2 separate regions of the Homo sapiens genome follow, and region 1 is linked to region 2. The links come from fine-mapping of genetic effects on gene expression. Tissue or cell type: whole blood. Region 2 holds a variant in brackets; the other region holds the start of a gene. All regions are shown on one strand. Distances are between the middles of the regions.

The links. PIP is the estimated chance that this variant, and not a neighbour inherited with it, causes the effect.
Region 1: ZNF200 starts here. The variant in region 2 is fine-mapped to the expression of ZNF200 in whole blood (INTERVAL, PIP above 0.99).

Annotation. Positions count from the first base shown.
Region 1 is chr16:3,232,103-3,237,246 of GRCh38, forward strand. ZNF200 (zinc finger protein 200) reads right to left here and starts at 3,056. Exons shown (of 5, transcript NM_198088.3): 1 at 2,885-3,056; 2 at 1,404-1,734; 3 at 731-819; 4 at 319-445. The coding sequence starts at 1,653. RefSeq lists enhancers at 3,095-3,154, 3,165-3,374.
Region 2 is chr16:3,260,610-3,265,753 of GRCh38, forward strand. It overlaps LINC00921 (long intergenic non-protein coding RNA 921), which reads left to right and starts at 3,159. Exons shown (of 2, transcript NR_033904.1): 1 at 3,159-5,144. RefSeq lists enhancers at 3,220-3,379, 3,820-3,919, 4,070-4,139 and a silencer at 3,400-3,579. The variant A/C (reference allele first, on the strand shown) is at 3,002.

The DNA.
Region 1 (5,144 bases), 29 kb before region 2:
AAAACATTCAAATATACCTGTTGAGAACAGAGTTCAGAAAATGGGTTCAGAACAGTTTCTATATCCACAGTTTCTATGTCTGCAGGTTTTCCCTACCTCTCCCCTCACTGCCCCCAAGATACAGGGAAAAATGGCCACCCACCCACAGCTGGAGTTCTGTGGCAAGGCTCTGCTACATTGAATAAAACAAAAGTAAAATAAAATGTGTGTGTGCACATAGGCTTACCAGGTGTGAATCGTCCCCCAAAGCTAAAGAGATGAAGGACATGCTTTTCCCAAAGCAAACAACCTGAACACACAAAGGCTGTGATTTCTTACCCAGTAACATCATTTCCCCGACACTGCTGTCATCTTCCTTCTCTGACGTGAGTTGTTGAGTAGGATCCAAGCTCACACATTCTTCCTGGCAGTGAAATACATTCAAATCCTCAAAGACCACCAGCTCCTGAAAGAGCAAGAGGCCCCTTTCATCTTAGTAACTGAGGTTCACTGACAGCCCTACTGGTAAGAAAAGCTGACACACAAAGATCAAGGGAAGGGATAGCAAGAGGGACCTATAAATCCCACAGAGGTGCAGCAAAGACAGGACAGCCAGGCTGAGAAGGGCTCAAGGAAAAAGCAGAAGAAAAACACCCAAGAAGGCCAACTCCTAAGAATGTGTTTTTACACACAGGTTGGCCAAGCACGGAAGGTGATGGATTCAGGCAGTAAATGGGAAAACCAAACCCACCTCAGGGTTAGCTTTCAAATACAGAGACACTGTCTCTTGTTCCTTTTGGACTCCTTTGGGCAGAAGCTTCACCAAGGGACGAGGATGCACTGGGGAAAGAGGAAGGTTTAGTTAGTGAAAAACTCAGTGACTCTAACACAGAGACTCCCCATACCGCGAGGCCAGGCTGTCCTCATTCCTTTGACAGGTAACTCATGGCCTTTTCTGCTCCTGTGAGCCCTTATAGAGTTCAAGCCATAAACTCTAGGGTCTTGAACCTATGGCATCTCCCTGTTATGAAAAGAATGACTTCTCTAAGCACCTTTCAGAATTTCCCATAGAGTATTACTAAAGGAGAGCTTAGGGCAACGTAAAGTGTGAAGATGCCCAGAAAAAGCACAAAATTTCTAAAATTCCACATCAACCTAACTCAATAATTCATCTGATTTATCCTTAAAAGATATTTCCCTCAGAATGTTTGGGTAAAACTGACACTACAGAAAGATGCACACTGTTTATTCTGTGGCCTTACTCACACCCAGCACTTGAGAAGAACTTCCTCTTTCCAACACTAGAATTGACTCCTTTTCCAATATACACCATCCTAACTTGAATTTATAACTAACACAGAAACCTATCTTAGACTCCAGTACCTCCTCCTCCTCTTCTAGTGAAACAAGCATGTGCTTCTCACCTCTGTTCTGAAGGCTTGAGCTCACATCTTTCATAATAACCAAGGTCTCCTTGACTTTCTGACTGGGCTGGACCAGGCTTGGCTTGGGCAAGAAGGTGAGGAAGTGCTCCAGCACTAGCTGGTGGATGGTCTTGGGCCCGTTAGTGGCATCTCGAAGTAGGTCTTGGCCCAGCTTGGAGTCTGGCGGAACTCTCAGTATAAAGGACTGCTTTGGCTTTGGGGGCATAGGAACCACTTTTGCAGCCATCATGCCTTGCAACCACACACCACACTCGTTTCGCGGGGCCTCCAGAGCCACCTCTTACTAGAGGAAATCTGCCAGAGAGCCAAGCTGTAGACAGAGAAACCAGGGATTACCCAAAAGACCAGGCACGGCATTACTGCACTCCAATATGTGGCATGGCTGGTGAGGCTACATGAGATCTAAAGAAAACGACAGCTGGGATAGGGAAATCATAACTGAAACGCAGTATTTGAACAAGATATGCTTAGGAAGATGTGAAAGGAAGATCCTGAGAATGAAAAACAGAGACTGTGCAAACCTCAAGTCCAAAGGGAAGGGAGTAAGGGTGGAGCGGAGAAGGCCAAGGTCCAGCCTCCTGAGAAATACAAAGTGTGGCCAGGTACCGGTGGCTCACACCTGTAATCCCAGCACTTTGGAAGGCCCTGGCGGGTGGATCGCTTGAGTCCAGGAGTTCAAGACCAGCCTGGGCAACACAGCAAGACACCGACTCCATAAAAAAAAAAAAAATTAGCTGGGCGTGGCGACACAAGCCTGTGGTCCCAGCTACTGGGGAGCTGGGAGGATTGCTTGTGCCCAGGAGGTCGAGGCTGCAGTGAACTGTGATCGCGCCACTGCACTGCAGTCTGAGCGACAAAGCAAGACCCTGACTCTAAAAAAAGAAAGGAAAAGAGAAAGGAAAGAAGGAGGAAGGGAATCAGGGAAGAGAAAGAAAATAAAAGGAAAAAGAAAGAAAAGACAGAAAGAAAGACGGTGTGTAAAACCCACCAGGAATAGGTTAAATCAGGCTTGGAGAAAGAGCAATGGGCTAGAAGACAGGAAATCTGGGGTCAATACCGAGGACATCTGCCTAAAAGCAGGTTGGTCACTGAATCTGGCCATACTGTACCCCTCGAACCGAAGCTCCCTCCGGTGCCCTTTGGGCGGGGAGGCGGTTGGTGACTCTCCCGGGGAGCAGATGCAAGGCCGAGGAGGTGTCCACACACCGCCTGCCGACTCCTCTCCGCCGTCAAAGCTCTGCTGAGAGCGGCAGGCGACATCCCACTAAGGACCGCCGGGCCAGGCTCACTCTGGGGCCTCTTCCGCTGGTCAAGGAACACCTTTACCGTAAAGCTCAGCGTGCGCCCCTGCCTGAGGCGCTCACCAGGCTCCCTACCCGGCCTTGCTCCCTCAGCAACGGACACGCTCCGCTCCCCAGAGGCGGCCTCAGCCTGGTTCCCGCCCTCACGGAGCCCCTCACCTCTCGGGGCCTCTGCAGCCCCTGAGCGTTTGCTGGGGACGGCTCAGAGACTCAGGCTCCGGGAGAGATAGAAAAACTAGGCGCGAGCGGTCGAGCCCTCCCCTCGCCCTTCCGAGTGCCCTCACAGGTCGCCGGCGACTATTCGTTCGCGCCGCCGCCAGTTGAGGAGAACGGCAGGGACTCGGTGCCTTCTGGGAAGTCGGGCGCTCTGCGGCTGTGACGTCACAACCGGTGCCTTGTTTCCGGTGCAGAAGCCTGGTCTCCCCGTTCGGAGCCGGCAGTCTGCGCTTGAGACGTTAAGACTTGAGACAGGCCAGAGGAGCTCTCAGGGCCGGAGGGAGGCCAGGACGGCTGTAGCCTCTCTGTGGTTCTGCCTGGAAGACGGAAGGCAGGTGGTTGGCTCTAGTCATCCACGACGGGCTGGCACCTCTCCAGCTGCGGCCAGTCTAACCCCAGGGCCTGCTGGGAAATGTAGTTCGAATGCAAACAACCAATGGACGACCGTCAGGCGCGGCGGTTGGGGCGGGGCAGGCCCCCCCACCGCCCCACCCCCCGCCCACCCAGCGCCCGCGCTCCCCCCACCCCCCACCCCGCCACCCCCCTACCCCGCCACTCCCCCACCGCCCTACTCTCCCCACCCCCCACCCCCCTACTCTCCCCACCCCCCACCCCCCACCCCGCCACCCCCCACGGCGCCACCCCCCAACCCCCACCCCCCTACTCTCCCCACCCCCCTACTCTCCCCACCCCCCTACTCTCCCCACCCCCTACTCTCCCCACCCCCCTACTCTCCCCACCCCCCCACCCCCTACTCTCCCCACCCCCCTACTCTCCCCACCCCCCTACTCTCCCCACCCCCCCACCCCCTACCCTCCCCACCCCCCCACCCCCCTACCCTCCCCACCCCCCTACCCTCCCCACCCCCCTACCCTCCCCACCCCCCTACCCCGAGGCTTAAAGGAAGCAAGCTATCTCTCCGACCGGAAAATCAAGACGCCTCCGCGGTTTCCGCCTTTTACTGCGGTTCTCCAGTAAAAAGACTGCGGAGGCGGACAGGGTGTGGCCGCCATGGGACTCCGCCCCCGCTCTGGTGACTCCCATAGGTTAGAGATGGGGCACCGACATTGCCCACTCCAGCTTGCTAACTTCTACACTGCTGTCCGCACCGGCCGTCTTGTTTTTAAAGACATCTTAATTGCCCTTCTCCTACTGTCTCGGTTTCCTTTCTCAATTTCAGCTTCCTACGGAGGCCGAACAGAGTTTTGTGTTTGTGCGTTGTATCCACACTCGGTTCGTTCCCCAGTGACGCACTGATCAGGGTTCGGACAACTTGTGGGCAGGGATGGCCTTATTTCTCGATGTAATACCAGCCTCCAGAAAGTTGACAAAAGTAAAAATATAAATGAATGCCTCTTCTTAAAGTTAATTATACCTGACTAATGGCTGACGATGGCTTAAAATATGTTACAAAGAAACGAGTATGAAAACTGTGTGGCACCAAGACATTCTAGAAAAATAAGGAATATCTGCCTTTTCAGATCAAAATTTACTAAAAAGCCTCCGTTAATCAAAGCATTATGGTTTGAATTATGAGGCAAAACAGATAACTGAGATGTCTTGAAGTAAAATATAAACCTGTGTGATTGTATTTTTTAAGAACTTTTTCTTGACTCTGTTAACAAACAAGAAATAGACTGGAAGATAATTGTAAAGATTAGCTACACAAAAGATTATACATTCCTAAGACAAAATGAACCCCTGCCAACTGACAAAAAGCAAAGGCAATGAGGAGCTCTTCCCGAGAGGAGGAAAACTAATTGGTCATTAACATTTAAAAAGATGCTTAACCACACTACTAGTCAAGATTATCACTTTTAAAGGGAACCACATTTTTCACCTATCAAACAATGAAGGTGGAGAAATAGGCACTCCTTTCGCTGGTAGTGTGGTGTGTGAAGTCATCTTGTAATATATATTAAAATTAAAAGTACAAGTATGTACCCTTTGACCTTCACAATCTCATCTGTGAATCTGATGTCTACAAATTTCTTGTAGAATTCTTTGTAGTGACAAAAACTAGAAATGACATGCATGTTCATACGTAAGGAAAGGAGTAAATTGGTGCATTCATACTCTGGAAATTACCCAGCTATGAAAAAGAATGGATTGGAACTATATGTACACCTGGAGGGATGGCCATAAAATATTACATGAAAAAGTTTCAGAGCTACATATATTATGCATAATTATATTTTTGGAA
Region 2 (5,144 bases):
GACAATTGCCCACCCTGTTTAGATGGGTTAATTGACATACTGAACACATGTCTAGCTAGGAAGAGGCACCACAGGGCCATTCATTTACTCTTGGAGCACCTGCTGTATGCCAGATGCTATTCTAGGTACTACTGATACAGAACTGAACAGAAAAAAACTTCTTGCAGTGCTCACATTCTTTTTTTTCTGATATAAATGCCCTTCAGAAGAGGCCACATTCTTTTTTTTTTTTCGAGATGGAATTTCACTCAGTCGCCCAGGCTGGAGGGCAGTAGCGCAATCTCGCCACTGCAACCTCTGCCTCCAGTGTTTGAGCGATCCTCCTGCCTCAGCGTCCCAAGTAGTTGGGATTATAGGTACCGACAACCACGCCTGGCTAATTTTTGTATTTTTAGTAGAGACGGGGTTTCACCATGTTGGCCAGGCTGGTCTTAAACTCCCGGCCTCAAGTGATTTACCCACCTCGGCCTCCCAAAGTGCTGGGATTACAGGCGTGAGCTGCTGCGCCTGGCTCAGAAGATCCCGCATTTTTTTTTTTTTGACGGAGTCTAGCTATATTGCCCAGGCTGGAGTGCAGTGGTGCTATCTCAGCTCACTGCAAGCTCCACCTCCCGGGTTCACGCCATCCTCCTGCCTCAGCCTCCCGAGTAGCTGGAACTACAGGCGCCTGCCACCACGCCCGGCTAATTTTTGTATTTTTAGTAGAGACGGGGTTTCACCGTGTTAGCCAGGATGGTCTCGATCTCCTGACCTTGTGATCTGCCCACCTCGGCCTCCCAAAGTGCTGGGATTACAGGCATGAGCCACTGCGCCCAGCCAAGAGCCCACATTCTTATAGGAAAGTGTGAATTGATATAAACAAACAAATACACAATGTATCAGGGAGTGATAAGTTGGGGGAAAAAACAGCAGAATAATAGGGTTAGTGAGTGCAGGGGATTGGTTTCATATTTTTTTATTTTTATTTATTTATTTAGAGACAGAGTCTCACTCTGTCACCCAGGCTGGAGTGCAGTGGTGCTATCTTGGCTCACTGCAACTTCTGCCTCCCGGGTTCAAGCAATTCTCCTGCCTCAGCCTCCCAAGTAGTTGGGATTACAGGCTCACACCACCATGCCAGGCTAATTTTTGTATTTTTAGTAAAGACGGGGTTTCACCATGTTGGCCAGGCCAGTCTCAAACAACTGACCTCAAGTGATCCAACCGCCTTGGCCTCCCAAAGTGCTGTGATTACAGGCATGAGCCACCGTGCCCCCTGGTTTCATATTTTAATAGGGCACTTGAAGAAGGCTTTTGTGCTTGAACAGAGACCCAAAGGAAGAGGAGTAAGCCAGGTATTCATTTTGAGGATGAGCAGTCTTTGCCTATTTACAGAGTGCAAAAGGGGTAACTTTGTGCTTAGTGTTTGAGGAAGAGTGGTGGCTGGAGCAGAGGCACGGAGGAGGAGTGGATGGAGGGGTTAGAGAGGGAGCTGGAGTCCCCTATCAAGTAGCAGGGCTCCCAGGACACAGCAAGGACTTGGCTCTTACTCTGAGATGAGGGGACACTGGAAAGTTTGAGCAGAGCAGTGACATAATTGGAGTTACGCTTTAAAAGAAACATTCTGGGCCGGGCGCGGTGGCTCACACATATAATCCAGCACTTTGGGAAGCCAAGGAAGGTGGATCACCTGAGGTCAGAAGTTCGAGATAAGCCTGGCCAACATGGTGAAAGCCCGTCTCTACTGAAAATACAAAAATTTGCTGAGTGTGGTGGTGATGTGCGCGTAGTCCCAGCTACTCTGGAGGCTGAGGTGAATCACCTGAACCTGGGAGGCGGAGGTTGCAGTGACCTGTGATCGCACCACTGTACTCTGGCCTGGGTGAAAGAGTGAGACTGTTTCAAAAAAAGAAAGAAAAGAAAAGAGAACACTCTGGCTTCCATAAGAGACAAGAGATGAGAAAGGTGGAAACAGAGAGGAGAAAGCAATCTATTGTCACAATGCAGGAAAGCGACTGCAGGGCCCTGAACCACTGTGGAGGCAGAAGGGTCAGATTCTGGGTGATTCTGAAAGCAGGGCTGACATGATAAGGGTAGACTGGATACTGGCGGGTGTGAAGATGCATCTAAGATACCTGTTTCTGGCCAGATTTTACAAAGGGCCCTTGTTGCTACCTTAAGGAGTTAGTGTTGAATCCTGCAGCAGCTAAGAGCTTCTGCAGGATCTCCCTCTCAACTTGGACCAACCCACCTGCCGATCCCAGCCCAGATCAATGAGATCTGCTGCCCAGTCCCCTACGCAGATAACACTAATTGTAACTGATCTTTCTGAGGGCACCTCCTGAGCAGCTTGGAAACGGAGGGAGAGGAGAGGAAGCCAGCTTCCCAAAGTGGGGTGTGGCAGGTGGCCTTAACCCTGCTGAAGGGCTGCAGTCATGGGGCTCTGAATAGATCCCCACACCACTCACCAATGAGCTTCATTTGGAAGGCGGTAACGTTAAACAAGAGGGTTTGTAAAAAATAAAGGCCTACACACATAATTTTTTCTGATTATTAAATCTAGGTGGAGAGTACGTGAGTATTCATGTTACTCTCTCAACTTTCTTGTGCTTAAAAATCTTAAAATAAAAACTTTAATACGCTCTGTCCTACCAATATTTATAGGAACCTGACTAGCAGCCAGGCTTTGGACACGCAATCCCCGGCCACCAAAGGGCTGACAGGCTAGTGAAAGGGGCAGAAAAATAACAAAACTGTGTCTGGAAGGCAGCTACTCCCTTTTTTTGTTTGTTTGTTTTTTGAGACGCAGTCTCACTCTGTCGCCCATGCTGGAGTGCAGTGGCGCGATCTTAGCTCACTACATGTGCCTCCGGGGTTCAAGCGATTCTCCTGCCTCAGCCTCCTGAGTAGCTGGGACTACAGGCGCGCGCCACCACGCCCGGCTAATTTTTGTATTTTTTAGTAGAGACAGGGTTTCACCATATTGGTCAGGCTGGTCTCGAACTCCTGACCTCGCGATCCG[A/C]CCGCCTCGGCCTCCCAAAGTGGTGGGATTACAGGCGTGAGCCACCGCGCCCGGCCCTTTGTTTTCTTACCAACTAAGCAGCAGCACTGACACTGTTTCCTTTGAGGTTCCGTTTGCTGAATCCTGCCCTCTAAGGTGCTCCGCCCTTCCACTCCCCGCCCCGTGCTGCTGTCATTCCCACGCCTCACCCTGTTTTGCAACTTCTTGTTTATGAGCCTGGAAGCCACGAAGTGGTGGGAAATACGAGATTCAAATATCTGGTGGCCGTGTGACGTGAGTAAATTACTCGATTTTTCTCAGTTTCCATTTCCTATCAAATGGGTTGTTCTGGGAATTCGGGGAAGTAACAGTGCCGGGAACCGCGGGAGGAACCGCCAGCTGCGTCCTCGGACGTCCCCAAAGCCCAGGGCGGCGACTGGCACGACTGTCAGGGGCGCGTCTGTTAAGAGGACAGGGGGTCCCGCCCCGGCACAGCCGTCTCCTCCAGGACCCCTCCCGCCGACGCCCCACGGACCCCACGCCCGAGCGGAGACCGGCGCGAGTCCGGGGTCTCCGGTCCGGCAGCCCCTCCCTGGCCCGGCGCCCCAAAGGGAAGCGGCCTGGGGGAGGAGACGTGTGGAAAGAGCGGCAGAAGATAAAGAGGAAGTAGCGGTAGAGAATAAAAAGGAACTGTCCGCAGTGTGCCCGGACGCGGGGAGGCGCTGGGGTCAAGCGAGACCCGACCTGCACGCAATTCCCGCCGGGGTCCCGGCCTGCCTGCGGGAGGGAAAGGACCCAGGGCGGCTTCTGCCAAAAGTGCGGCTTCTGCCGAAAGTGCGTCTTCTGCCGAGGGGCCCACATAAGGCGCGACAGACACTCCAGCCCGACCCCGACGCCCCGCCCTCACGCATGCACATGCGCGGAACACTCCCAGAAACACATCTCCCAGAGCGCCCCGGGAGCACGCGAGCCAATTGGAGGGCGGATTAGCGGGGGCCCACGTCTCCCAGAGGTCTCCGAGTCGCGGCTCTGTTGGTCTGATTGGCAGCCGCAACAGCCTATAGCTGCTTTTCGCCGGAGGGGCCACGCGCCGTTTGCCGGGACTGAGCCGCTGTTGTCGCTGGTATCCCGGGAGCAGCGCCGGCAAGTGGAGTCGTCGTATTCCGGGCGGCCCGCGGCCCACGGGGATGGGACGTCCCGGGGCTGTGCTGACCCCAAAACCCTTCCACACTTTATTAGCCTGTCGCCCTTCTTTCATGTTTACAGCAAATATTTTCCGAGTGCCTAATGTGTCCCACTTACTGTGCCACGTGCGAGGGTGCACGTGTCAGGCAAGATCGCTGTTCCAAGGAGGCTGAGAACAAGTAAATGGTAATTACCAGTTATGACCAAAGCTGTGAAAGGAACAGATACATCAGCCTAACAGCAGCACTGCCGTTTTCTCCCTTATAATCAGCAGAGGCGGGCTAGAGCAAGGATTCTCAAACTCTGCCCCCTCAGAACCCTAGAGTACGGTTGCTGAAACTTCTGTTTTTTCCTTTTGAACAAATCTAGTAACATGCTGTGAGCCAGAGAGGTAATGGTTTGGCTCAAAGAAGGCACATGCATCTGGTTTCTTTCTTCTTTTTTGAGACGGAGTCTCGCTCTGTCGTCCAGGCTGGAGTGCAGTGGCGCCATCTCCGCTCACTGCAAGCTCCGCCTCGCGAGTTCACGCCAGTCTCCTGCCTCAGCCTTCCGAGTAGCTGGGATTACAGGCGCCCGCCACCACGCCCGGCTAATTTTCACGCCCGGCTAATTTTTTGTATTTTTAGTAGAGACGGGGTTTCACCATGTTAGCCAGGATGGTCTCGCTCTCCTGACCTCGTGATCCGCCCGCTTCGGCCTCCCAAAGTGCTGGGATTACAGGCGTGAGCCACCGCGCCCGGCCCAGGTTTCTTATTTCAGGAGCTTCATAGGCATAGACCTCCCTCCTTCCCTCCTACCCCCTCCCCCCTCTCCCAACTAATGCCAGACCGGCCACTACTTTTTAACTGTTTTACATATTTAACCTTCAAGAAAGATTTCCTTTGATCCAAGTGTATTGCAGCCCACAAAAAAGCTTGGAAACCCAGCTAGATGGTCTGTTTTTCTAGTTCCTACATTGGATTTAAGTCCTACCCATCGA